3 separate regions of the Homo sapiens genome follow, and all the other regions are linked to region 2. Evidence: fine-mapped QTL for protein levels in blood plasma. Region 2 holds a variant in brackets. A gene starts in each other region. All regions are shown on their reverse strands.

Evidence for each region. PIP is the posterior inclusion probability: the model's chance that the variant is causal. The UK Biobank Pharma Proteomics Project read protein levels with antibody pairs (Olink). The fine-mapping took linkage between variants from a reference panel, not from the people measured, so its PIPs are less certain.
Region 1: PYY starts here. The variant in region 2 is fine-mapped to the plasma level of the PYY protein (UK Biobank, PIP 0.99).
Region 3: GIP starts here. The variant in region 2 is fine-mapped to the plasma level of the GIP protein (UK Biobank, PIP above 0.99).

Annotation. Positions count from the first base shown.
Region 1 is chr17:43,948,880-43,957,147 of GRCh38, reverse strand. PYY (peptide YY) reads left to right here and starts at 3,208. Exons shown (of 4, transcript NM_001394028.1): 1 at 3,208-3,298; 2 at 3,665-3,852; 3 at 3,959-4,039; 4 at 4,168-4,415. The coding sequence starts at 3,665. The coding sequence ends at 4,192. RefSeq lists an enhancer at 3,670-4,173.
Region 2 is chr5:96,430,389-96,438,656 of GRCh38, reverse strand. PCSK1 (proprotein convertase subtilisin/kexin type 1) reads left to right here and starts at 5,409. Exons shown (of 14, transcript NM_000439.5): 1 at 5,409-5,794. The coding sequence starts at 5,615. All of the region lies in intron 4 of LOC101929710 (a long non-coding RNA gene), which reads right to left. It also overlaps a transcript of CAST not described here and the pseudogene LOC102724070. RefSeq lists silencers at 4,257-4,376, 4,238-4,532. The variant C/G (reference allele first, on the strand shown) is at 4,463.
Region 3 is chr17:48,965,254-48,973,253 of GRCh38, reverse strand. It overlaps GIP (gastric inhibitory polypeptide), which reads left to right and starts at 4,658. Exons shown (of 6, transcript NM_004123.3): 1 at 4,658-4,737; 2 at 6,001-6,107. The coding sequence starts at 6,022. RefSeq lists enhancers at 6,071-6,571, 6,572-7,072.

The DNA of each region.
Region 1 (8,268 bases), not on the chromosome of region 2:
TGGCTCACTGCAACCTCTGCCTCCTGGATTCAAGCAATTTTCCTGCTTCAGCCTCCAGAGTAGCTGGGACTACAGGCATGCGCCACGACGCTTGGCTAATTTTTGTATTTGTAGTACAGATGGGGTTTCACCATGTTGGCCAGGCTGGTCTTGAACTCCTGACCTCGTGATCCACTCACCTTGGCCTCCCAAAGTGCTGGGATTACAGGCGTGAGCACCACGCCTGGCCTGAATTACACTTGCTGTATGACAACCTGCTATCTCTAGGACCCTGGGCATGAGGAAATGCCTGAGGGTGGAAAGCAGTGGAGCAGTGCCACACAGTGCATGGTGATCAAAGTGAGGCCTTGTGTGTGGGGAGTGGGTACAGGCAGGTGGGTGATGGGGTACAGAATTCTAAGCCTCTGGGGATGAATGGCAGAGGCCACACCATCTTGATGAGTGGCCCTTGAGCCCACTGGACAAGGAGAATTGTTGGCTGGGGTCCAGGTCCATGGTCTCCCTGACTTGGGGTGGCCTTGCCAGGTGCTCTCAGAATGGGGACCATTCTGATTCTGTCCCCTCCCCTTTGATTCTGTCCCCCACCCTTCAAGGACAAACCGGAGGCAGGTCCTGGTCTCACTTCTACAAAAACAATTGTTTCTGAAGTTTCCCCCCTCACACCCTAGACATGTCTCATGGCCACTGAGTCATGCAGCAATGATGGGTGTGGGTGTGTGGATCGGGGGGTGGCTGAGCCCATTGATCGAGGGCTGAGACATTTTCCCCGCTAATCAACAAGTTAATAAGCTCTTCGATGAGGAGGCGGTGATTAATGAACCAATCAGCTTGCCCTGTAATTGGGGAGTGAGATTGGAGGGTGGGGGTATGAGGGATAGAGAGGGTTTGCGGGGATGTGCGGCTGGCTCCTGGTCCACACTGAGACCACCTAGGGGCCCATTTACTTTGGCTATAAATGAGGAAGTGACTTCTTCAGAGGTTGTAGCCCGAATTCAGGCCACCCCATGCCCTCTAGCTTCTACAGTGTCTCTCCTCTCTTCCCATCTGTCCTTGGACTCCACATTCCCCAAGACATGACAGGGTTCCAGGGATGTCAGATTCCCCATGGCCATCTCACAGTTTCCTTCGTCTCTGTCCAGAATCGGTGCACTAGAAATCCCCTACCAGCACCATGGTTAGTGCCGCCGCAGGGTCAGAAGAGCAAATAGCCCCCTACTCTCTGGTATCCTTGCCCCCGTTAGCCTGCAGGGTCCTTCTCTAGGCCCTGATCCCTGGGATCACAGATGTCCTAACCAGCCCCCACTGCTCCCTCCATCCTAGGGTGAGCACCTGTCTTTTGTCTTTCCATGGAGGAATGGAATTATTTGATTTCTGCTGTCTCCCCTCCAAACAGGACAAAGGCTGTCTCTGTCTCTCTGTATCTGTTCTGGGAACCGCTCATACTGGGGCTCCCCTATGACATGGCCATATCTCTCCTTTGAGACTGGGGTTCTTGAAGGGCAGGGGTGTGTCTTGCCCCCTGGATGAGGGCTCCCTAAGAAGAATGATTTTTCTCCTCCCTCCAAGGGCAGGATCTATGTCCCCTTGTCCTGGTGTCCTCTTCCACCCCCATGCTCAGCAGGGCACCCTGGTGTTTCCTGGGATGTGGAGTCCCATGGGGCCTGACTGGCTGATAAGGAGCCATTTCCGGAGAATGCAGGTGATTGAACCCATAAAATGGTGACAGAGAGCCCTGAACTCCCCATCTCAGGAGAGCTCTAAAAATAGCGCCCACAGCCATCTGTCCTGGGGCTGGAGGGGCTGGCTCAGAACCAAGGGCCTGGACAAGTTGGCCCCATCAGTCCCTATGGGCCGATGGGACATCTGGAAGTACTGGAGGTCTGGCGAGGCCAGGGAGAGGAAGCTGGAAGGGCTTTATGGGGAGACCTTCCCACAGCCCTTTCTCCTCCTGGGCAGGTGGGTTTGAGGGGGTTGGCAGTCTGAAGGTCCTTCCCCTACTCCGCCTCTCAGAGTGGGTGTGGGCCCTAGACTTAGTCTTCGGGTCCCTGCTCCCAGGCCTGCCTCTGGCGCCCCAATGGCTACTCCAGGTGCTGAGCCTTTCTGCCCCTCACAATTGAGAGGTCCTCTTCCTGGGTTCTGCCTCACCCTGCTTTTCCTGTTTGAATTGTGGGTGAGCTTGGCTGCTCCATCACCTCCCAGGGCTTCAGTTTCCTCATCTGGAAAATGGAGATAAACTCAGCTCATCGTCTTGTGATGCCCGAAATTATGCACTACCTAGTGCATAGTAGGTGCTTAATAAACACGAGTCCTTTCCTTCAAAGGATCTGGGCTTAGAGCCCAGTGGAGACTGCCATGGGCTGGGGACAGTGGCATGTGCCTGGGAAGCCTTGGCATCACTCAGGCCCAGAAGACACCAGTGCTCTGAATGACACCTGCATAGGGGTGGAGACACTCTGCCTTGGGAGGGGGCTCTATACCACACATGGCTGGACTGGGGTCTGTGTGTGCCAGTCTGGATACACAGGTGGCCGACTCAGCTGCTTCTGGCGGGGAGATTGGTTTCTGCCTCCTCCTGCCTCTTTTCCAACTCTTTAATAGAGAGAGGACATAATGGAGTGTTCAGAGAGGCCTCTCCCCAAGACACCATAAACTGCAGGTCAGGAGCCAAGGTCAGGTGCTCCCACCCTGCCTCCAGGAGAAAGACTTTCCCCAAAAGGTCCTGTCATTCCTCAGCCCTTCTCCAAGGTATTACTGAACAGAGGCTGAAAAGGGTTGTCTTTTGGAAAGAGTGGTCACACATCCCACGGACTGGAGGGAATGTGTCCACCCTCCCACCCCCAACTCCCATCCACGGACAGGCTAGGGAAGACAGAATCTCAACCCTGGTCCTAGGGGCTGCCCCAGGAGTCTAGATCCAACCGCTTCACTTCCTCAGGAGGCTAGACCTGCCACTGGGGGGCTGTGGGGTGAACATGGGGTTCAGGCTGGGTACCCCATCCAGTGAGACCACGAATCTGAGCATGGCAACTGCCCCCTCAGCTCCTGCGAGGTGGAGACATCACGCACTGGCTGGGTATAAGCTCAGCGATCTGGCGAGGGTGGAAGGAGGGAGGAAGAAGGGCCCACCCCCTGCTGGCTCCCCCTCCCCCTGGGACTCCCCCTCCCTTTCCAGGCGGGGATATAAGCCCCACAAGGAAAGCGCTGAGCAGAGGAGGCCTCAGCTTGACCTGCGGCAGTGCAGCCCTTGGGACTTCCCTCGCCTTCCACCTCCTGCTCGTCTGCTTCACAAGCTATCGCTGTGAGTGGCTGGGGGCTCAAGCCTGGGGAAACCCAGGCTGTTTTGTGGGGAAACTGAGGCTGGGATGGTGGAAGCTGGGGGTGAGTGGTAGGAAACTGGATTGGAGGGGGCCATCGGAGGTGGGAAGGAGGCCAGCAGCGGGGGTGGGGGTGGGGAGGCAGGCAGGGCTTATGCTCCTCTGACATGAGGAAACTGAGTCAGGAGACGGTGCAGTGCCCAAGAACACACAGCAAGCCCGGTGGCTGAGCCTTGGTCCGGTACCAGCCCCAGGGAGAGCGTCGGAGCGCGGCCCCGACGGCAGCCGCAGCCTCCCGCCGTGTAGGGTCGAGGCTTGGAATGACCCACGTCCCAATGTCGCCTTCCCAGATGGTGTTCGTGCGCAGGCCGTGGCCCGCCTTGACCACAGTGCTTCTGGCCCTGCTCGTCTGCCTAGGGGCGCTGGTCGACGCCTACCCCATCAAACCCGAGGCTCCCCGCGAAGACGCCTCGCCGGAGGAGCTGAACCGCTACTACGCCTCCCTGCGCCACTACCTCAACCTGGTCACCCGGCAGCGGTGAGCGCAGGCGCGGAGCGGGACCCCTGGGGCTCTCACCCTGCGGCCCCGCTCCACCTGGGGGCGTGGCCAGATCTGACCACGCTCTTCCCTTCCCCGCCCCCAGGTATGGGAAAAGAGACGGCCCGGACACGCTTCTTTCCAAAACGTTCTTCCCCGACGGCGAGGACCGCCCCGTCAGGTCGCGGTAAAAGCGCCCGTTACCACACATCCTGCATCCGAGAGCGCGGCCTGGCCCTACCCTGGCAACATCACTTAACGACGTCTCCCAGGCTCGCCTCCCCAGATCCAATTCCTTCCCCTTCGCTTCCGCAGGTCGGAGGGCCCAGACCTGTGGTGAGGACCCCTGAGGCCTCCTGGGAGATCTGCCAACCACGCCCACGTCATTTGCATACGCACTCCCGACCCCAGAAACCCGGATTCTGCCTCCCGACGGCGGCGTCTGGGCAGGGTTCGGGTGCGGCCCTCCGCCCGCGTCTCGGTGCCCCCGCCCCCTGGGCTGGAGGGCTGTGTGTGGTCCTTCCCTGGTCCCAAAATAAAGAGCAAATTCCACAGAAACGGAATGTATGCCTTTGTATTTCCTTTCCTTTCTCCTTCGTGGAGGTGGCATCCCGTAGAAGTGGAGGGTGGAGGCGTGGGGGCCAGGGAAGAGAAAACCGACTTGGACAGAGGCGCCCCAGGACAAGGCTGGGGCGGGCTGCGGAGTTCCCTCTGCTCGGAGCCCAGGGAAGACTCGACCACCCAGCCTGGAGCTGGACAGCGCCCAGGCCAGGAACTGCTGTGGAAGGAACTCTGGTCGAGTGGGGGCAGGAGTGGATGGAACTCTGGAAGAAGGGGCGGGGAGCGGCGACAGGAGCCTGCTAGGCAGCCTAGGAGAGCAGATGGGGTCAGGGCTGTCCCTCCCCCACCCCGTGAAGCCGAAGACGGCTGGGGGACGAGTCGGGCACCAACACCCCGGGGCGTTTCCCCAGGAGCTGTAGTACTAGCGCCCAGGGCTGGAGTGGCTGGAGGTGAAGTGTAATCCAAAATGGGGCTGTGGAGGAAGAGCCGTGTGGGGGTGAGATGGCTGTACGTGTGCTGGCCGGAGAGGCAGGCCATTTCTACCGTCCCCCTTTCCCTGAGTAGAGGAGCAATGGGAGTGTGGAGGCTGCCCTATCCCTAAGAAACCTCCCTCCCCAATCTCGCTGAATTCACACGCAGTGGATAAGTCACGAACTGTTCTTTCTTAGTGACAAGGCCATAGGGACACCCTCCATGTACCCCCCTCCCCTGGACTAGCTACTGAAGCCTAAAGGCTCTGTGGATGTTTAAACTGGAATCCAACTCGAATCCCTCACCACTCTGTACCTATTCCAGAGCCTGCCTGCAGACTGATCTCCCCTGACATCCACCCTTCCCTGCCCCTTTCCTCCAAGAAGCTTGCCTTGATTGCCCAATTGCACTCTTCCTGCCCTCTCTAACTGCCCAGCTCTCAGGGCCTCTGCTCTGTTCACTGAGAGTTCTATGTCTCTGTGTCCTGTCTCCCTCCTGGGGCCTCAAGAAGGAAGGGCCTATGTCTCCTTCCTGGGACACAGCCTCCTGTATCTGTGGGCTCTCTTCTGGGACTCCAGTTCAGCAAGACCTGCCCAAATCTGAAGCAGGGCACTAGGAGATGAGGGGGGAAATCAGGTTGACTTCAAAACCTGTGACCCAGAGAGGGGAAAAACGACAGGAAGGCTGGGGGCATCCTTGCAGCGGATCAGGGGTTTTTTTGTTTTGTTTTTTGTTTTAGAGATGGAGTTTTTGCTTTTGTCGCCCAGGCTGGAGTGCAGTGGTGCGATCTTGACTCACTCCAACCTCCACCTCCTGGGTCCAAGTGATTCTCCTGCCTCAGCCTCCCGAGTAGCTGGGACTACAGGTTCTCACCACCACACCTAGCTAATTGTTGTATTTTTGGTAGAGACGGGGTTTCACCGTGTTGGCCAGGATGGTCTCAATCTCCTGACCTCGTGATCTGCCTGCTTCGGCCTCCCAAAGTGCTGGGATTACAGGCGTGAGCCACCGCGCCTGGGCTGGATCAGGGTTTTTAAGGAGTATTTGCAGTTCAATGGTTCTGGAAGGAGAGAAGACTCTAAAGCTGACTCTGCCATAGCTGCAGAGAAGTTCCCTGCTTGGACACAGGTCCCTTGGGGGCCACAGGGCTCTGACACCCACCCTCCCCTGTGCTGCCCTCCAGCCTCCCTGGAGGTAGAGCTGAAAGGATGAGGCAGAGGAGGCAGGTGGAGGTCACTGGCTATGTGGATTCTGATGCTCTGCGCCTTTGCCCAGGCCACTTTACCTCCTTGCAGAGCCCTTTCCCTCTCTTAAGCCTGGAAGATACTCTCAGGATAGTGGTCACCTCCTCCTGGAAGCCTTGCCTGATTTCTTGGGGATGGAGTTAGTTTCTTTGACTCCCTCTCCCCACTCATTATCTTAGACCCACTTTCCATCCTATTTTGCCTCCTGTCTTCTCTCCTGCAACAGGACAGGTGGGACGAGAGCACACAGTGGCTGCCCTGAGCTTTGGTTCATTGTGTGGGTGGGGAGTGGGAGGATGTGTCTGTGTGTTGGTGTCCATGATCCCCTGTCTATTGGTCTGCCTGGGAGAGCTATAGTCAGTTTAAGGCGGATGGAAGAGAGACCTGGTATGAGTTAGGCATGACCACAGACAATTTCTGCCCAGCTTGACATGTCTCATTGACCATCAGTGACATGGGTCCACCTCATGTTCATTTTGAGGAGTGTTGAGCAGTTTAGGGTAATAACATTATTAATAATTATTATTAGTATAATAATAATGACAATAGCAATAATTATTTTTTCCAAAAAGCACTTATTTATGTGCGAGACACTGAGCTGTTTGTTTTACATATATCATATTACTAGGATATTGATTTGGCTTAAAAAAAAAACAGGTGGAATTAACAGTGGCTTAAACAAGATGGAAATTTATTTCTCTTGCATGAAATGTGAGTGGCACGTGGGGAGTTGGCAGTTGTGCTCCATGAGGGCATCCAAGAGCCCAGGCTCCTCGTTTGTGGCTTCCCCATGCCCTCATCTATGTCATTTACAGGACTGAAGACAGCCCACCATGGCCTCATCTGTGTTCCGGCCAGTGGCAAGGGAGGGAAGGGGAAGGTAAGCACTCTGGTTACTATGTTGTATAATAAGTTACCCTAAAACTTGGCAGCTTCAAGCAACCATTGTACATCACTCAGGATTTTGTGGGTCAGGATCAGGAAGTGCTCCCCCTGGCAGTTCTTGCTTTGAGTCTCACATGCGGATACTATCAGAGGTTGGCAGGGTTGTGGTTAAGGATCCACTGGGCTGATGCCTGAGAAGGCTCATTCGCATGCTAGTGCTGGCTGTTGAGTTCAGCCGGGGCTGTTGACCATTGTACCTACATGTGGCCTCCCCAGTCTGATATTCTTGGGGTAGTTGGACTTAAATGGTAACTGGTCTCCTGCTTGGAGTATTTAAAGAGAATCAGATGAAGATGGCATTGCTGGTTAGTTTGCTAGGGCTGCCATAACAAAGAATCACAGACTGGGTGGTTTAAACAACAGTTCCTGTGGCTAGCAGTCTGAAATGAAGGAGTTGGCAGGTTGATTCCTTCTGATCTGTTCCAGGCCTCTCTCCTTGCCTTGAAGATGGGTGTCTGAGCTGTGCCTCTTCACATCATCTTCCCTCTTTGCATGGCTGTTTCTGTGTCTAAATTTCCCCTTTTCAAAGGCGAACAGTCCTATAGGATTAGGGGTTCACACACTGTAGTATGACCTCATCATTTTTTTTTTTTTTTTGAGATGGAGTCTCGCTCTGTCGCCCAGGCTGGAGTGCAGTGGCATGATCTAGGCTCACGACAACCTCCGCCTCGCGGGTTCAAGCGATTCTCCTGCCTCAGGCTCTGGAGTAGCTGAGACTACAGGCACGCGCCACCACACCCGGCTAATTTTTGTATTTTTAGTACAGATGGGGTTTCACTATGTTGGCCAGGGTGATCTCAAACTCCTGACCTTGTGATCCACCCGCCTTGGCCTCCCAAAGTGCTGGGATTTCAGGCGTGAGCCACCGCGCCTGGCAACCTCATTTTAACTAATTACATCTGCAAAGACCCCATTTCTAAATAAGGTCACACTCTGAAGTACTGGGAGTTAGGACTTATGAATTAGAACATATGAATTTCAGGGGGGGCACAATTTAACTCATGACAATCATTTTTGTGACCCAGCCTCAGGAGATAAGGCATCATATCCCATATTCTGTTGGTCAAAGCAGTCACAAGTGCATTCACATTCAAGAAGAGGGGACACAGACCCCACTGTAGAATTACACATGAGATAGGAGATTTTTTTTGTCATCTTTGAAAAATATAATCTGCCATAGGCAGGCACATCCATT
Region 2 (8,268 bases):
ATACAAGTCAATGAAAATGACATAACATCACTTATTCCTACAAATGTTTAATCCCAGCCTAATCATTAGAAAACACCAGACAAACCAAAATTAAGGACCATAATATAAAATAACTGAATAGTACTCCTCAAAAGTTTTAAGGTTGTGAGAGACAAAGATAAAATATCCCAGTTTGGAGGAGACATAATAACCAAATGCAATAGGGAGTCTTAATTGAATACTGGACCATAAAAGAAGATATACTAATAGAACAGTTGGAAAAATATAAAGGTCTATAAATGAGTTAAGAATATTGTATCAATGTTAATGTTTTGGTTTAGCTAATAGTAATATGGTTACACCAGATGTAAACCCCAGGGAAAGCTGCATGAACGGTATACACAAGTTTTGTGTACTGTTTTTTCTTAATTTTCTGTAACTATAAAGTTATTTCAAAATAAAAAGTTGGAAAAATAAATTATCTTTTTTTAGTTGGCCAACTATACTATATTCTATTCTGGGTGCCACATTTAAAAAATTCTATTGAAAGACCCTATCCGGACAAGAGCAAGCAGAATGCCAAAGTGTTAAAAAGGTTGGGGATGTTTAACCTAGAGCAGAAAAAAGTTAGGCAAGATATAACAATCTGCCTTCGAAGTATGAATTGCTATCATGTATAAAAGAGATTGAGACTTGTCAGTGTGGTACTAGAGGGCAAAATTAGCATGCTTGACTGGAGGTAGTAATGAGGAAAGGTTTTATAATATCATTATAAGGAAGGACTTTGTAACCATTTCAGCCAATCCAAACCAAAGAATGGGTTGCTTTGGGAGACCAGGAATTGCCTAACAACTTGTTAAAAAATATCACAGAGGAGTGTCATGTATACCAGGCATGTTAAGTAGATCAGTGCGTCTCAAACTTTAATTGCGTATGAATCACTACGGACTCATTAACAATGCAGATTCTGATTCAGTAGTTCTGGGGTGGGGGCTGAGGGTCTGCATTTCTAACAAGCTTCCAAGTGATGCCTATAATGCTGGTATGTGGACAAGACTTTGAGAAGCAAGGAGCTGTATAATATTCAAGGTCACTTTTCAATACTAAAGTCTATAATTCTCATAGAAAGACATACTTCAGGAGCAGAGACAGCAGTTATGCACTGAGAGTTTAATACGAAAATGGCAATGTTTGAGAGCACAGAGGAAGCAAGAGCATTGCCTGCAAGCAGAAGCAGGGATGCTCTGCAACTCACTCAGTAAATGCATATTTTAAAAGAACCTGTTAAAGAAAGAACCTAAATACTTGTATATGGCCACATTTAATTATCCATTTTCATTAGAAAAGATCAATTATTTCTAGCAAGTGGAATTTATGGCACTCACTGCTTCCATTTTAATAATTCAATTCAATTCTACATTAAATTCAAGATTTTGTGTTTATCTAGTTCATTCAGCAAAAATCCTTCATAATTATTCATCCACCTCAAAGCCTTTGCAGTGTATAGACTTTGCTTTTTTACTCTTTTACTTCCATTTCTATAGGTCAGAGCATCCCAACCAGTAGAATTAAAGATGTCCCTCAAGATATTTGGTCTTCTAATCACTTGGGAAGGCCAGGTGAGTAGCTTGTTGCTGAGCTCTTGGAACTCAACCAAGTCGTGTCCACCACCTTGATGCTGTATTTACTTCAGCAACCTGCTGCAAGCATGTCTATTTCCATCATGTGAAAAGTGTCTGTGGATCTGCTGGAGGAGTTCATACTCTAAGTACTTAATTAGCATAGCACACCCACCAAAATTTGGTCACGGGAGGAGATATCATGAGAAAGTAATTCAGGGACTTCTGGCAGGTGTATCTTTAAGTGGTAACCCCAATATCAGTCTTTGTGTATACTAGATACTTTTCTCAATTTGTGGTAAAGTTGGTAGATGGTAACTTCTCTAAAAGGTGTGTGTATTTTCCAATTTACAATTTCAATATTATTTTGTCATACTTGACCTGTAAAATTTAGATGGATTCTGAATCTATAGGCATTTTCATATAGAACTCCAATGATAAATATGTCAAGAAAATAAAGACGGCTATATTATTTAAAATAGAATTTTGCAAAAAAGTTTCATTGACAGCAGCTATTAAGAATATAAAAAGATCATTTGTCATTAAAATGTTTTAATTAGAAATGATATATAGCCTTTTTAAGCATAAAACTTCAGATAAAAACTTATATTGGTGAAAGCATATTCAGATTTCTCAATTTAAAGTTATTAATATGCAATTTAATGTATTGCCCAAAATGTTATATTTTATTTTGTTATCATAATTGTATCATGTAAAGAAAATGTTATGAATCTCTTCACCCAGCTCCATACAGATGTCTTCAAATTTCCTCCAGTTTACCCCAGTGTGCCACACAAATATTGTTATTTTCTATGTTGGAAAACACTGCTATAGGTAGGTTTGCCCCTATAATGTGTTCTGCTACCAAAAATCTTCTAGTTTAATTACAGACTAATTTGTTACACCTTTGAGTTAATGTGCAGTTAATGTTACCCATAGCAAACAGGCAAGTCTACATGATAACTGGAAAATGTTAAACCTACATTATTTCCTTACCCATTCTTTAACATCTCTTGAAGATCTAGGAATATTATTCTGTTATTCTGTGGGTCTAGAAATGTTTTTCTTGGCCCAAATGGTTACACTGTGTCCACTTTGTGATAAATATTGGGTACATTGTTTAGTATGCCCAAGGGTATATGTTTTATTTCGTAGTAACAAAATGTTTAAAACATTTGTTTCCTAAGACTAAAGAGATATGGTGATCTATAGATCTCCTTTGAGCATATTCTTACTTCCTGCTCTTAATAGCTTCTTTTACTCTCCAAGAAACCTTAATGAATGCTTAGCTGTATCACTGGGCAGTTGTGAGCATCATGAAAGGCATGGCAATCACTTGATAACTTATAATGGAAACACGTCCTCTTAATTTCTGGAGTATCCGGTTTTCTATATAAATTAATCACATGAATCAAATGCTATTAAAACCAACTTAAGGGTGATAATTGGCTCTTCCAATTTATAATACGAAATATAACACTGATGGGCCTGGAGGTCACTACCATGATCTACAAATCAGGGTAGGACTAGCCCTTGAAACAAAAAGTTAAAATGGATTCTAAATCTACTTGCACCTCTAGTCTTGGCAGAAATTTATTTCTTCTGCATGCCAGAAGTTCTGGCAAAGAGGTTCATAGGATAAAAATCAGACAATAGCAGATTAACTTACTGATATCTGTATTGTGTGGATGAGGATATTATCTTCTTTTTGTGAGAGTTTACTTGGCCCTGTTAGGTATATAAACCAAATGTTTATTCCAGGCTTCTATGGTGCTCCATTTAAGACAAATGCCTCATTAATGAGAGAGACACGGACCCTATTGCCAACACTCTGCCAAACTGATTTACTTGAACAATAATAAGAAAGGGACAAATATGTTCCTCCTCTGACACATCTACCGTTATAAAACATTTGCCCTGGGCTTCTCTTGCCTTGCTAGTGCACAGTTAGTGTCTGTCTGCTGTGAGAATGAAACACCCTTGAGAGCTTGAGGCCACAACTCAGGCCGAGGTGTGAAGGGAAAAGAAGACAGCTTACCCAGCCATCAACATTCACACATGTGGATTTACAGAACAGACAACAAAGCTATCAATCGGAGCCCATTCCATTTCATCTCATGTGAGTTACATTATTGTAAAACACTTAACCATGTCACATGGCTTATTAACATTGGCATTTGATTTTGTAAAGATGCTTTATGTTTAAAGAAATTATGTAGTGCACATTTCTGCAAACGTGGAGGCAAATGAAAAATTAGCACTACAGAGCCTGATCCTCCACCAAGTCTTGTCTCATTTGCTTCTTGTAAGGAACATCTCTTGCTTCCTTTCTCCACTTGTTTATATGCTTTCTTTCCAACCTTCTCCCCTTTCTTCTATTTCTACAGCATAGATCGCGCCCTCGGGCGGTTGAGCTTTAAAAAACAACAACAACAACAACAAAAAAAAAAACAAACTTCCCAGGTGCAGCATACTCTCTCAATTCCACCTCCCGGCGATTTTACTTTTGGCCTGAGTCCAACACGTTCCCAAGAGCTGGACACAAGTTGTCACGATCATGAACCTAACCACACTCCCCCCTGCGGCCAATTTCCTATTTTGCTGTTCAAAAGAGGGAAATGCACATATCAAAAGGAAAACAGCTTGGTGCTGGCCAGCTGCAGAAGGGTGGAGGTCTTTGGTGCTCAGAAGAGAGAGCAGCTCCTGCGGCAGTCCTGCGTGTGTCGCTGTCCAGACCTCGGTGCTGAATACTAGGCACTGGTATCTCCCGCCAGGTTCAATCCCTCAGGGTTCGAATAGGCTCCACCATGGGAGACTGAACTCACTTCCCTAGGGTGAGGGGTGGAGAATTCATTTAGATGTTT[C/G]CTTGCTCTCCTCCCACAGGAAACCATTTTTCCACAAAGAGGCATTGTGCATTTTATGGGAAAGTAATGGCACAGCTCCAGCTCAGCACCAAAGTGAAGAGCTCTACTGAGGCACAATGGAAAGTCGAGGTAAATAAAAACTGCTCTTTCCCTCCCTGAATCAACACAACAGCTTTTGGGATCCTAGATCCCCTTGTTGACGAATTCTTAAAAATATGTTTTTTTAAAATCACATGATTAATCATTTTACTGATAAACACCCTAAAAGGTGGTGGTGGCGCTGGCTTTGCAATATCGGAGTATAACTACTGATATTGTTTTACTGAGGTTGAGAAACAAAGGGGAGGAGGGAAGTAAACTTGTAAACTAAGGTGGCTTGAATGGTTAAAAATTCATTTTTAATAGTATTGCTTTAACATAGACATGCTAATTTTCTCAGACAATTTAGAACAGAATTGGGACAGTAGTAGCTTCCCTTCTTCTCCTTACTCTCCTAGCCTCTCTCTTTGAAAGACCTAAGAGCCTTGTTCTTCATAGCAGGTGCTGATGCCCAAAGGGCCATTATAAGAATCCTATAGCCTCCCCCCCTCCCCGCCACACACATGAGATAATAAAGTAAATACAGAGAAAATGGATGGAAGGGAGGGAAAGCACTCCCAGCCTTTGATTCTTGGTAGTTATGTTCAAGTGGGGCACTTCTCTTTGAAAAGTGAAAATGTTTCTCACGGTACAGAATTTATGGGCAGACAAGGAGCAGACTTAACTGATCCCAGCAAACAGTTCCTTCCTTTTCCTAATCCCTGGCTGCTTATTTTAGCCGCTTCTCCGCCCCGCCGGGAATACCATTCGGATCTTAGTCCAGGTAGATCTGACGTCAAGAGATGGCTTTCGTCGATTTGACGTGTAAACACTCATTTCCATTCTGGCTGGGAAGGGCTGGGGCTCCACTCAGCCTGGAGACCGAAGCGCTTCACTGAGCGCTCGCCGCCGCCCAGCCTCTCCTCTCGCGCCTCCTAGCTCTTCGCAGAGCAACCAGGAGCCAGGAGTGGTCTAGAGCCCGAGGGTGGGAAGGGGGAGTCTGTCTGGCTTTTCTCCTATCTTGCTTCTTTTTCCTCTTCCCTTCCCACTCTTGTTCAAGCGAGTGTGTGAGCTATGGAGCGAAGAGCCTGGAGTCTGCAGTGCACTGCTTTCGTCCTCTTTTGCGCTTGGTGTGCACTGAACAGTGCAAAAGCGAAAAGGCAATTTGTCAATGAATGGGCAGCGGAGATCCCCGGGGGCCCGGAAGCAGCCTCGGCCATCGCCGAGGAGCTGGGCTATGACCTTTTGGGTCAGGTAAGAGTTTCCACTTTCAAGAAACTTTCTGGGGCCCCAGGGGACTGGCGGGACTGGAGCGCGGTCTTCCAAGTGGGAGCCCCAGGTTGCACTCTCCAGAGCCCAGAGTAGCAAAGAGCAAGGAGCTGCTCCAGCCCTCGCCCCTGTCGCGCTTGGAGAGAGAGAAAGCTTGCATTATTTACTGTTTAGGCTGGGCGCAGCCAAGCAGAAGGAAGCCGCTGCAGCTGGGTAGGGCTTATGCTTACTGTTGGCCGCTCTAGAATTGAAATCCGTTCCCGCGCGGTTTGGAAGAAAAATCCCTCCACGCTTGTTCAGGGAACTTGAGATACACTCAAGCTCTTACCAACCAAGCGCCCCCGGGAGAAGCAGTGCGCTCCATCCCCCGGGACTGAGGCGGTCTGCGTCAGGAGCCGGCTGTTGCCTTCTTTTCAATATGGCAGCATCAGATCCAAGTCCTGATGCAAGGGGCTAAGCAGGCTTGGGGCTGTCCGCCCTGGCAGCCTGTAAGGGCACGCCCAGGGCATTGGAAGAGTGCCAGCTGCTGGGACTCGCGACCAGGAGGTTGGGAGGCCGCGGAGTAGCCTGGGAAGCTGGGGGGAGAAATGGTGGGTGAAAGACACGGGACCATCTATCCCCGCGACTCTCTAGGGAGCTCCGGCTTTTCACTGGGAACTTATAAAGTCCAAGCTTCATAACTTTGCCCGGCCAGTCCCACTGCAGGGTCGAGATGCCGAACTGACTATGGGGAAGGGATCTATTTCTTTCTTGTTCTTCAGCCAAGTACGTAATCGTTTTCCCGGGAATTTCAGCTTATTGTTGCCTGTCCAAGTGAAGGCTTGGTCGATAGGTAGCTGGTTGGAGGTGGGTGGGCGTCAAGACATTAAGTGGGAGACTGCTTATAGCTGAGCGATTCCGAGGGGACCCTAGGGAGTGTGACTTCTAGTCTAGAGCTTTCCTTTCCTTGGCTCGGAATCAAGCCCTCGCCCCCTGCTTGGGAAGTTGGTCTGCATTGAAGCGTGGGAGGAGGCAGTTGTAAAACATTTTGGCGCGTTTTTTCTGGAGGTGGTGGTTGAGACGCCGCTGGAGTCACGGATGAGTAATCGGCGGGGGCGTTGGCGATTCTGTAGACCGAACCCTCTGGGGAATTCGCCTGCTCTTGCTAGAGGCTTCATTCTCAACTTTATAAACCAAATTGTCTTTGAAATGCCCGAAAGGAAAATCAATGCAGATTGGCTTCCTGGTGTCCCAGCAGCAGATGAGTCTTTTGCTTTTGGCCAGCCCTTGCCCTCGTGCCAGGCTCCGTGTTAGGGGCTGAGGAATAAGAGGAGGGAAAGAAACGCTCTCAAGTAATCAAGAATCTAGAGGAGACTAGCTTAGAGATAAATGATTGCAACTGATTGTAATTTGTGTAATCATAGAAGTTGTACTTGAAGTCTCAATATTCATTGGTTGAAGGAATGAAAGTAGTAGGGAATTCGGGAGGGGTGAATGAAAACTGCCCAAAGGAGAAAACATTTGCTCCGGGAACAGAAGTCAAAGGTTGCCAGGAGCACATAATGAGATCGGAGAAGACAGTCTAGGCATAGAAAACAGCTTGTGGGAAAACAGTGAGACATAATACAGTTTAGTAGTAAGTCTGGGAATTGCACGCAATTATTAGGAATTTTTGAGACCCAAAGAGGGTATGAGTAGCAGAGGAAATTGTGCTGGTGGGTACTGTGGACATCATACAAATCATGTATGACCTATGGGGGTGGACACTGGGGATTTAATTGTGTATTCCTTGAGCAGCTACTGAAAGGCTAAATAGCACTGGTAACCGTGTAGGAGGAGACTGGGGAAGACAGCAAAAACTAAATCTCTCTTCTTTTTCCCACCTGTTAGCTCTAGGCATGCATCTAAACCTAGACCATTCAATGTGAAAACTGCTTTTCAAAATAAATAAACATAAATCTTAATAGTAAAAAACAATACATCATCATTCTTGGGAGGATCTTTGAGTAAGGGATAGCATAGTCACAAAAGCATTAACAAATAGTGGGGGAAAACCATCTATATTTATATATGATTTACAATACTATCTTTCCTCTAACCATTTTTAGTTAAGATGGCATTACTAACAAAAGTTTTAAAACAAACTTAACAAAATTATTTTATTAGAATAATAATTCTTTGTAGAAGGCTGATAGCACGTTCCTGGTTCTGCTTATTTCTCTTTTTGTTTAATATTACTAAAATTACACTAATTTAGCATTACTATATTGGGTACCTTATTGCCTCAGGATAAAGCTTGGATTAAGGTAGTGACAAGAAGAAAAACCAGTTGACAGCAGAGAAAACAGAGCTAAGCACTGGTGATCTTTTTCTGCGGCTGCTGATTTCTCTCCCCAGTTCCATCCACAGCTTATAGGAAGATTCACTGAGATTCAGGCTTGGAGCAGGGCCTAAGCTTCTCTATTTTAAAATTCTCTGGG
Region 3 (8,000 bases), not on the chromosome of region 2:
GATGGCCATAAAGGCTATAGATAGCATATTCTTTTTTTTTTTTTTTTTTTTTTTTTTTTTTTGAGACGTACTTTCACTCTGTCATCCAGGCTGGAGGGCAGTGGCACGATCTCGGCTCACTGCAACCTCCTCTGCCCACTGGGTTCAAGTGATTCTCCTGTCTCAGCCTCCCAAGCAGCTGGGATTACAGGCGCCTGCCACCATACCTAGCTAATTTTTGTATTTTTAGTGGAGATGGTATTTCACCATGTTGGCTGGGCTGGTCTCAAATTCATGACCTCAAGTGATCCGTTCGCCCAGGCCTCCCAAAGTGCTGGGATTACAGGCGGGAACCACTGTGCCCGGCCATATATTCTTCTTGAAGACCCCTCTGGAAAGTATCTATCAGGACCTAAGGGAAATGCTGTCGGCAAAAATGTTTGGGAGCATGACTGTGTGTGTGATGTGACTGTGGGGAAAAGCTGGAGATAGTCCCTCTAAGCATCAGGATAGACCGGAGGACTTGGCAAAGTTGTTGGGCATCAAGTCACCTCTTGTTTCCTCCTCTGCCTAAGAAGAAATCTGTTGACTGGTGTGAGAGAAGCCAGAGAGGGAAGTCGGCTTTCTCAGTCAGCTGTGAGTTTGAAGACTAAGTGAACTTCAAAAGCAGGGTCCACGGCGGGGAGGCAGCAGCCAGCCCTCTGAGTCACCCTGACCTGGCTGCAGAGCTGGGCCAGAATGTCTGCGCCAGCGAGGGGGATGGGGATGGTGGTGGGGGTGGCGGTGAGTCACCAGTGGGGACTGGAAGAGCAAGCAAACCCCAGATGCTCTTCTGCTGTTACAGTTCTCATTCCTGAGGGCCCAGTCAGAACCCAGGAAGGGCTGGGAAATGGGACCCAGGGTTCTCTTGCGATGGCACTGCCCATCACCCCTTCTCTGAATCTCACTCCCCTGATTACCTAACTCCTGTAACACCTCAGAAACCCCCCAACCCAACCCAACACACTCTTTCTTTTTTTTGGCGGGGGATGGAGTCTCGCTCTGTCTCCCAGGCTGGAGTGCAGTGGAGTGATCTCAGCTCACTGCGACTTCTGCCTCCTGGGTTCAAGTGATTCTTCTGCCTCAGCCTCCCAAGTAGTGGGGACTATCGGCACTTATTGGCCAGGCTGGTCTCAAACTCCTGACCTTGTGATCTGCCCTCCTCGGCCTCCCAAAGTGCTGGGATTACAGGCGTGAGCCACTGTGCCGGGCCCCCACACACTCTTTCAACTTGTGTGGGTGTTGGGCTAGTTGGGGTGTCCTCCTGACCCCCATCCCCTGTGTCCTCTCTGACCCCTCACATGCTAGCAATTCTCCATAGTGAAATGGGAAGAGGGAGGCTCTGCTAATTCCAGAGCCTCCTCCTCCCCACCCCCAACCCCAAACCTGCACAGAACTCTGCACACCAGGGCGCTTCTCCTTATGGTGTGGACAGGCTGGCTTAACTGCCAGTTGGATTTATTAAATGATTTTGATCAAGTCCAGCAGGCTCTTCCAATCCTCAGAAACTTCCCAGGGTCATCTTTTCAATTTCCTGCCTCCCAATATGCCTTTTGGGGGAGCTGTGGAACCCCCTAGGAGTTTGGCTTCATCTCTGATCTCCCCTGGCCCTCCTCGCATATTCTGCTGCTTCTGGGGAGTGTGGAACTTGCAGACTTGAGCAGGAGCTCTAGGCTTGGGGGCCCTCCCCACATTCCCTGTTCCTGCCTGCCCTGCTCTTCCCTGCCTACAGGGTCCAGGACATATTCTCTCTTGTCTGTGCACTGCAGGGCATGAGGGCCAAAGATCAAAGAGAAATGGGGATGAGGCTGCAGAGAAGGGGGTGGGGTGGGGACTTAAAGTACACTTGCTTGGCCAGTCACGGTGGCTCACGCCTGTAATCCCAGCACTTTGTGAGGCCGAAGCGGGCGGATCACTTGAAGTCAGGAGCTCAAGACCAGCCTGGCCAACATGGTGAAACCCCATCTCTACTAAAAGTACAAAAATTAGTCGGGCATGGTGGTTCTTGCCTGTAATCCCAGCTACTCGGGAGGCTGAGGCGGGAGAATTGTTTGAACCGGAGGTGGAGGTTGCAGTGAGCTGAGATCGTGTCACTGCACTCCAGCTTAGGAGACAGAGTGAGACTCCGTCTCTAAATTAATAAACAAAATGAAGTACATTGGCCTTCAGAGCAGCCCACCCCCAAAACAAATCCACAGAGTACAAGGCAGGGGCTCATGGCTGCTAGAGCCCATCACAGAGCCTTCCTTGACTCCAATTTGGCCCCAGACTCAGGGTTCCCAGGGAATGTTGTCCACTTTTCTTGGATACTGTTGCCTCCAGGCAGGAGGCAGATTTGAACACAAGCCCTTCTGAGCTCATTAACTGTGTTGCTCAGCAGAAAACAAGATCACAAGCAGCCCTCACATCTCCCTTGGAGGTCAAATCTGAATCGACGTCTAATCTCTGCCCATTGGTAGCTGGGAGATGGAATTTGGAGAGCTTGCTAAGGGAGGAGTTTTTCTAGATGGTGGAGAATGGGTGGGTATGCAGAGGAGGTTTCCAGGAGGCAGAGGTAAGTGACCCTGCTAGTCCAGGTACCTCTCATCCCACACGCACACTTAATTTCATGCTGGATCTGCTCCTAGGCTAGGGTGTTCACCTGGAAAGGAAGGTGGCCTTTATTAGGACCTGGAGCTGATAGGCAGAGCATGAGCTTGGCTGTTTATGGTCCCAAGTACCCATGGCGGCGGCAGAGGAGGAGCCTGGAAAGAACGCCTTGGAGGTCTGCCAAAAATGCAATCTGTGCCCTGCCCCTTCTAGACTGAGAGCCCCTGTGGACAGAGCCATGTGCTAAGTACTTGGAGAAAGGCAAAGGGAGTATCCCAAGGAGTCTCCAGTCTGAGGGGGAGACACAGCCCTTAGCCTCAGAAAGCCTCAGTGTGCTGGGGGAACATCGCCTCCAGCTCTCCTCCTCCTCTCAGAGAGCTCCCAGGCAGATCAGGGACAGAAAGCCCCTGCCTTGGAGTGGCTCCTGTATAATAGAGAGGCACAGCATAACTCCAGGGTCTTCACTCTGATAGAAGAGACAGGATGACATACTTCTCTTGTACAGGACAGTAGGACATATGAGGAGAGGGGCTCCTAAATCTCTATAGATAAAGTTGTAACTACCCCACCCTCCTGTGAGCCCCTGAGGTACAAACATGTCTCTTTCTCCTGCTTTATCCTGCCCCTGAGCAGGAAGACAGCTTGAATGTATGTTCTCAGTTTATCCAGCTGTCCCTAGGAAACCCCGATCCTTCATATTCCCTCAACATTGAGCCCTTGGGACACCTCTCTAGATAATGTGATGGGGGCATTGCCACATCACCAAAGCCATAGGCCACTGTCCAGAGCTGGGATTCAGATGACTGTGGACCTACTCTCTCCCACCCAGAAGTAGCCTGTTGCCTTGTGGGAGTGTCCCCCTGCCAGTTAGTGCCACCCTACCCCAAGTCTGTCTTCACTACAAGTACCCTTTTTTATTTTTATTTTTATTTTTTGAGACAGAGTCTTGTTTTGTCACCCAGGCTGGAGTGCAGTGGCACGATCTTGGCTCACTACAACCTCTGCCTCCAGGTCTGGGTTCAAGCGATTCTCCTGCCTCAGCCTCCCAAGTAGCTGGGACTACAGGCACGTGCCACCATGCCTGGCTAATTTTTGTTTGTTTTTTTTTTTTTTGTTTGTTTGTTTGTTTTGAGATGGAGTCTCGCTCCGTCGCCCAGGCTGGCAGGCAGTGGCGCCATCTCGGCTCACTGCAACCTCCGCCTGCCGGGTTCACGCCATTCTCCTGCCTCAGCCTCCCGAGTAGCTGGGACTACAGGCACCTGCCAACATGCCCGGCTAATTTTTTGTGTTTTTAGTACAGACGGGGTTTCACTGTGTTAGCCAGGATGGTCTCGATCTCGTGACCTCGTGATCCACCCGCCTCGGCCTCCCAAAGTGCTGGGATTACAGGCGTGAGTCACTGCGCCCGGCCCCCTTTCTTTTTTCTTTTCTTTTTTTCTTTTTTGAGAGAGTCTCTCTTTGTTGCCCATGCTGGAGTGCAGTGAACTCGATCTTGGCTCACTGTAACTTCTGCCTCCCAGGTTCAAGTGATTCTCTTGCCTCAACCTCCCAAGTAGCTGGGATTACAGCCGTGCACGACCATGCCCAGCTAATTTTTGTATTTTTAGTAGAGACTGGGTTTCACCATGTTGGCCAGGCTGGTCTCGAACCCCTGACCTCAGGTGATCCGCCCGTGTCGTCCTCCCAAGCGCTGGGATTACAGACGTGATTCATCGCGCCTGGCCTACAAGTATCCCTTCTAACTGAGGGCAACTGTAAAGGAAGTAGGGCATAGAAGAATAGTAGTGGGCCCTGTGCCCAGAAGGGAGGAGGAGGAAGAAAAAAGGGGGTACTTAGGGTACCCTACCCACAGGCAGGCCCCAGACAGCAGCTGGAGATAGCCAAATGTTAATCACCAATTAGCACAGTTCAGGTGGAAAGGGCAACTCTATTATGTGTAAAATGGACTTAATGTGGCAGGAGCTGTGGGCTTAATTTCTTGAGATAAGATGCTTTTAGGCTAATCAGCAGGTCTATGCCTAATATAAAGGAGCTGGGGCATGATTTCTTCAGCAGGCTCAGAAGGTCCAGAAATCAGGGGAAGGAGACCCCTATCTGTCCTTCTTCTGGAAGAGCTGGAAAGGAAGTCTGGTAAGAGAAGTGGAGACAGGGATGGATGAGATGACCCGAGAGCAGATGGATCTTGGCAACCCTGAGATGCTCAGCAGCCCTGGCATCTTAGTTTTCTCTTCCTCTATATGAGATGTGAGAAGATAGTCAGGTGCGGTGCCTCATGCCTGTAATCCCAATACTTTGGGAGCCGAGGTAGGAGGATCATTTGAGCACAGGAGTTCAAGACCAGCCTGGGCAATGGAGGGAAACTCGATCTCTACACATAATTTAAAAAATTAGCTGGGCATGGTGGTACATGCCTGCGGTTCTAGGTACTCGGGAGGGTGAAGTGAAAGGTTTGCCTGAGCCCAGGAGGTCGAGGCTGCAGTGAGCCACGATTGTGTCACTGCACTCCAACCCGGGTGACAGAGCGAAACCCTGTCTCAAAAAAAGAGAAAGAGAAATGAGAAGGTAGCGCTGATGTTTCCTTTATTTATTTATTTAGAGATGGAGTCTCGCTCTGTCACCCAGGCTGGAGTGCACTGGCGCAATCTCGGCTCACTGCAACCTCTTCCTCCCAGGTTCAAGCGATTCTCATGCCTCAGCCTCCTGAATAGCTGGGATCACAGGCGCGCACCACCACACCTGGCTAATCTTTGTCTTTTATGTAGAGACAGGATTTCACCATATTGGCCAGGCTGGTCTCAAACTCCTGACCTCAAGTGATCCGCCCACCTGGGCCTCCCAAAGTGCTGGGATTGCAGGCATGAGCCACTGCACCCAGCCTGGTCCATCTTTTGGTAAGATTCCATGTCCCTTCTAGTCACTAACTCCAGTGCACAGCACCCCTCATCTTCCCCCATGGTGTTGCCCCAGGCTCTTAGAAAAGGTCCAAACTGGCAAGGCGCGATGGCTCACGCCTGTTATCCCAGCACTTTGGGAGGCCCAGGTGGGCAGATCACAAGGTCAGGAGTTCGAGACCAGCCTGGCCAATATGGTGAAACCCTGTCTCTACTAAAAATACAAAAATTAGCCGGGAGTGGTGGCACATGCCTGTAGTCCAGGCTACTCGAGAGGCTGAGGCAGAAGAATGGCTTGAACCCAGGAGGTGGAGGTTGCAGTGAGCCAAGATTGTGCCACTGCACTCCCACCTGGACGACAGAGCGAGACTCCATCTCAAAAAAAAAAAAAAAAAAGAAAAAGGAAAAGAAAGGGTCCAAACCTCAGGGCTTTGCCCCTCTCCAGCTTTCAGAACCCCTACTGGTTGCTCTCTCAACATGTCCTGGCTTTTTTCTGTCTTAGCTCAGGAAATAACCTTGGAAGATGGTGGCCACGAAGACCTTTGCTCTGCTGCTGCTGTCCCTGTTCCTGGCAGTGGGACTAGGAGAGAAGAAAGAGGGTCACTTCAGGTAGGAGTGGTGAGAGGAAAGGGATGGGGCAGAGGAGGGGTTAGGGGATGACAGGTTCTGGATTTGTTTCTAGGGGGAGATGAGAAAGGGAAGGAATCCAGGCTAAGAGGTAGGAAGCTCCAGGGAAATACCTGCCGGCAGCGTGAGTGCAAAGTGAGCACTGAGCCAGAGAGGATTTATTGTGTGCTGCTGTTACAGTGGGAGAGACTATGGTTAGATCTCTGGCGGGACTTCCTGGTGGTTAATTGTCCGAAGATGACAGAATCTCCCTTCCCAATAAATGTTTTATTCATTTATGCATGTTTGCTTCTTTCTTTTCTTTTTTTCTTTTTTCTTTTTTTGAGACAGGATCTTGCCCTGTCGCCCAGGCTGGAGTGCAGTGGCGTGATCGCAGCTCACTGCAGCCTCTGCCTGCCAGGCTCAAGCATCTTCCCATCTCAGCCTCCCGAGCAGCTAGGACCACAGGCATGTACCACCACGCTCGGCTAGTTTTTGAATTTTTTGTAGAGATGAGGTTTCGCCATGTTACCCAGGCTTATGAATGCATTCTTTTTTTTTTCTATTCTTTTCTTTTTCTTTTTTTTTGGGGGGGGATGGAGTCTCGCTCTGTCACCTAGGCTGGAGTGTGGTGGCACAATCTCGGCTCACTACAACCTCTGCCTCCTGGGTTCAAGCAATTTTCCCTGCCTCAGCTTACCGAGTAGCTGGGATTACAGGTGCCCACCACCACACCCGGCTAATTTTTGTACTTTTAGTAGAGATGGGGTTTCACTATGTTGGTCAGGCTGGTCTCGAACTCCTGACCTTAGATGATCCATCCACCTTGGCCTCCCAAAGCGCTGGGATTGAAGGCATGTAATCCCTGTGCCTGGCCCTTTTTTTTTTTTTTTTAATTGGAGTCTCACTTTCTCACCCAGGCTGGAGTGCACTGGCGCGATCTTGGCTCACTGCAACCTCCGCCTCCCGGGTTCAAGCAATTCTCTGCTTTAGCCTCCCAAGCAGCTGGGATTACAGGCACCTGCCACCACGCCCGGCTAACTTTTGTATTTTTAGTAGAGATGGGGTTTCACCATCTTGGCCATGCTGGTCTTGAACTCCTGACCTCGTGATCCACCTGCTTGGACCTCCCAAAGTGCTAGGATTACAGGCGTGAGCCACTGCGCCTGGCCTGTATCATGTAGATGTTAAGAACATAGATCTGAGCCCAGATGGCCTGGGGTAAATCCTGGATCTGTTACCTATACGGAGTGGCAGATAATAAGACAATAATAAGGTAATCTCTGCACCTTGGTTTCTCCATTCACAAAATGGGGATATAAATAGAACCTACCTCATAGGATGTTGTGAGGATGAAATTATTTTATGGATTCAAGGGCTTACACAGTGCTTCTCAGAGCTTTCGTATGAGTTGACTATTGTTATGGAATGTGAACCAAGGAATTGAATCAGGAAGGGCCAGGGCAGGAGGAATAAAGGAGGGAATTGTGTGACTCAGTCTTTTCAGATGAGGGGACCCCGATCCCTTTTTTTTTTTTTTTTTTTGAGATGGAGTCTCCCTTTGTCACCTAGGCTGGAGTGCAGTGGCGCGATCTCCGATTACTGCAAGCAGCGCCTCCTGGGTTCACGCCATTCTCCTGCCTCAGCCTCCCAAGTAGCTGGGACTACAGGCGCCTGCCACCACGCCTGGCTAATTTTTTTGTATTTTTAGTAGAGACGGGGTTTCACCATGTTAGCCAGGATGGTCTCAATCTCCTGACTTTGTGATCCACCCACCTTGGCCTCCCAGAGTGCTGGGATTACAGGCGTGAGCCACCGCACCCAGCCTTTTTTTTTTTTTTTTTTATTGAGACGAAGTTTTGCTCTTGTTCCCCAGGCTGGAGTGCAATGGCACGA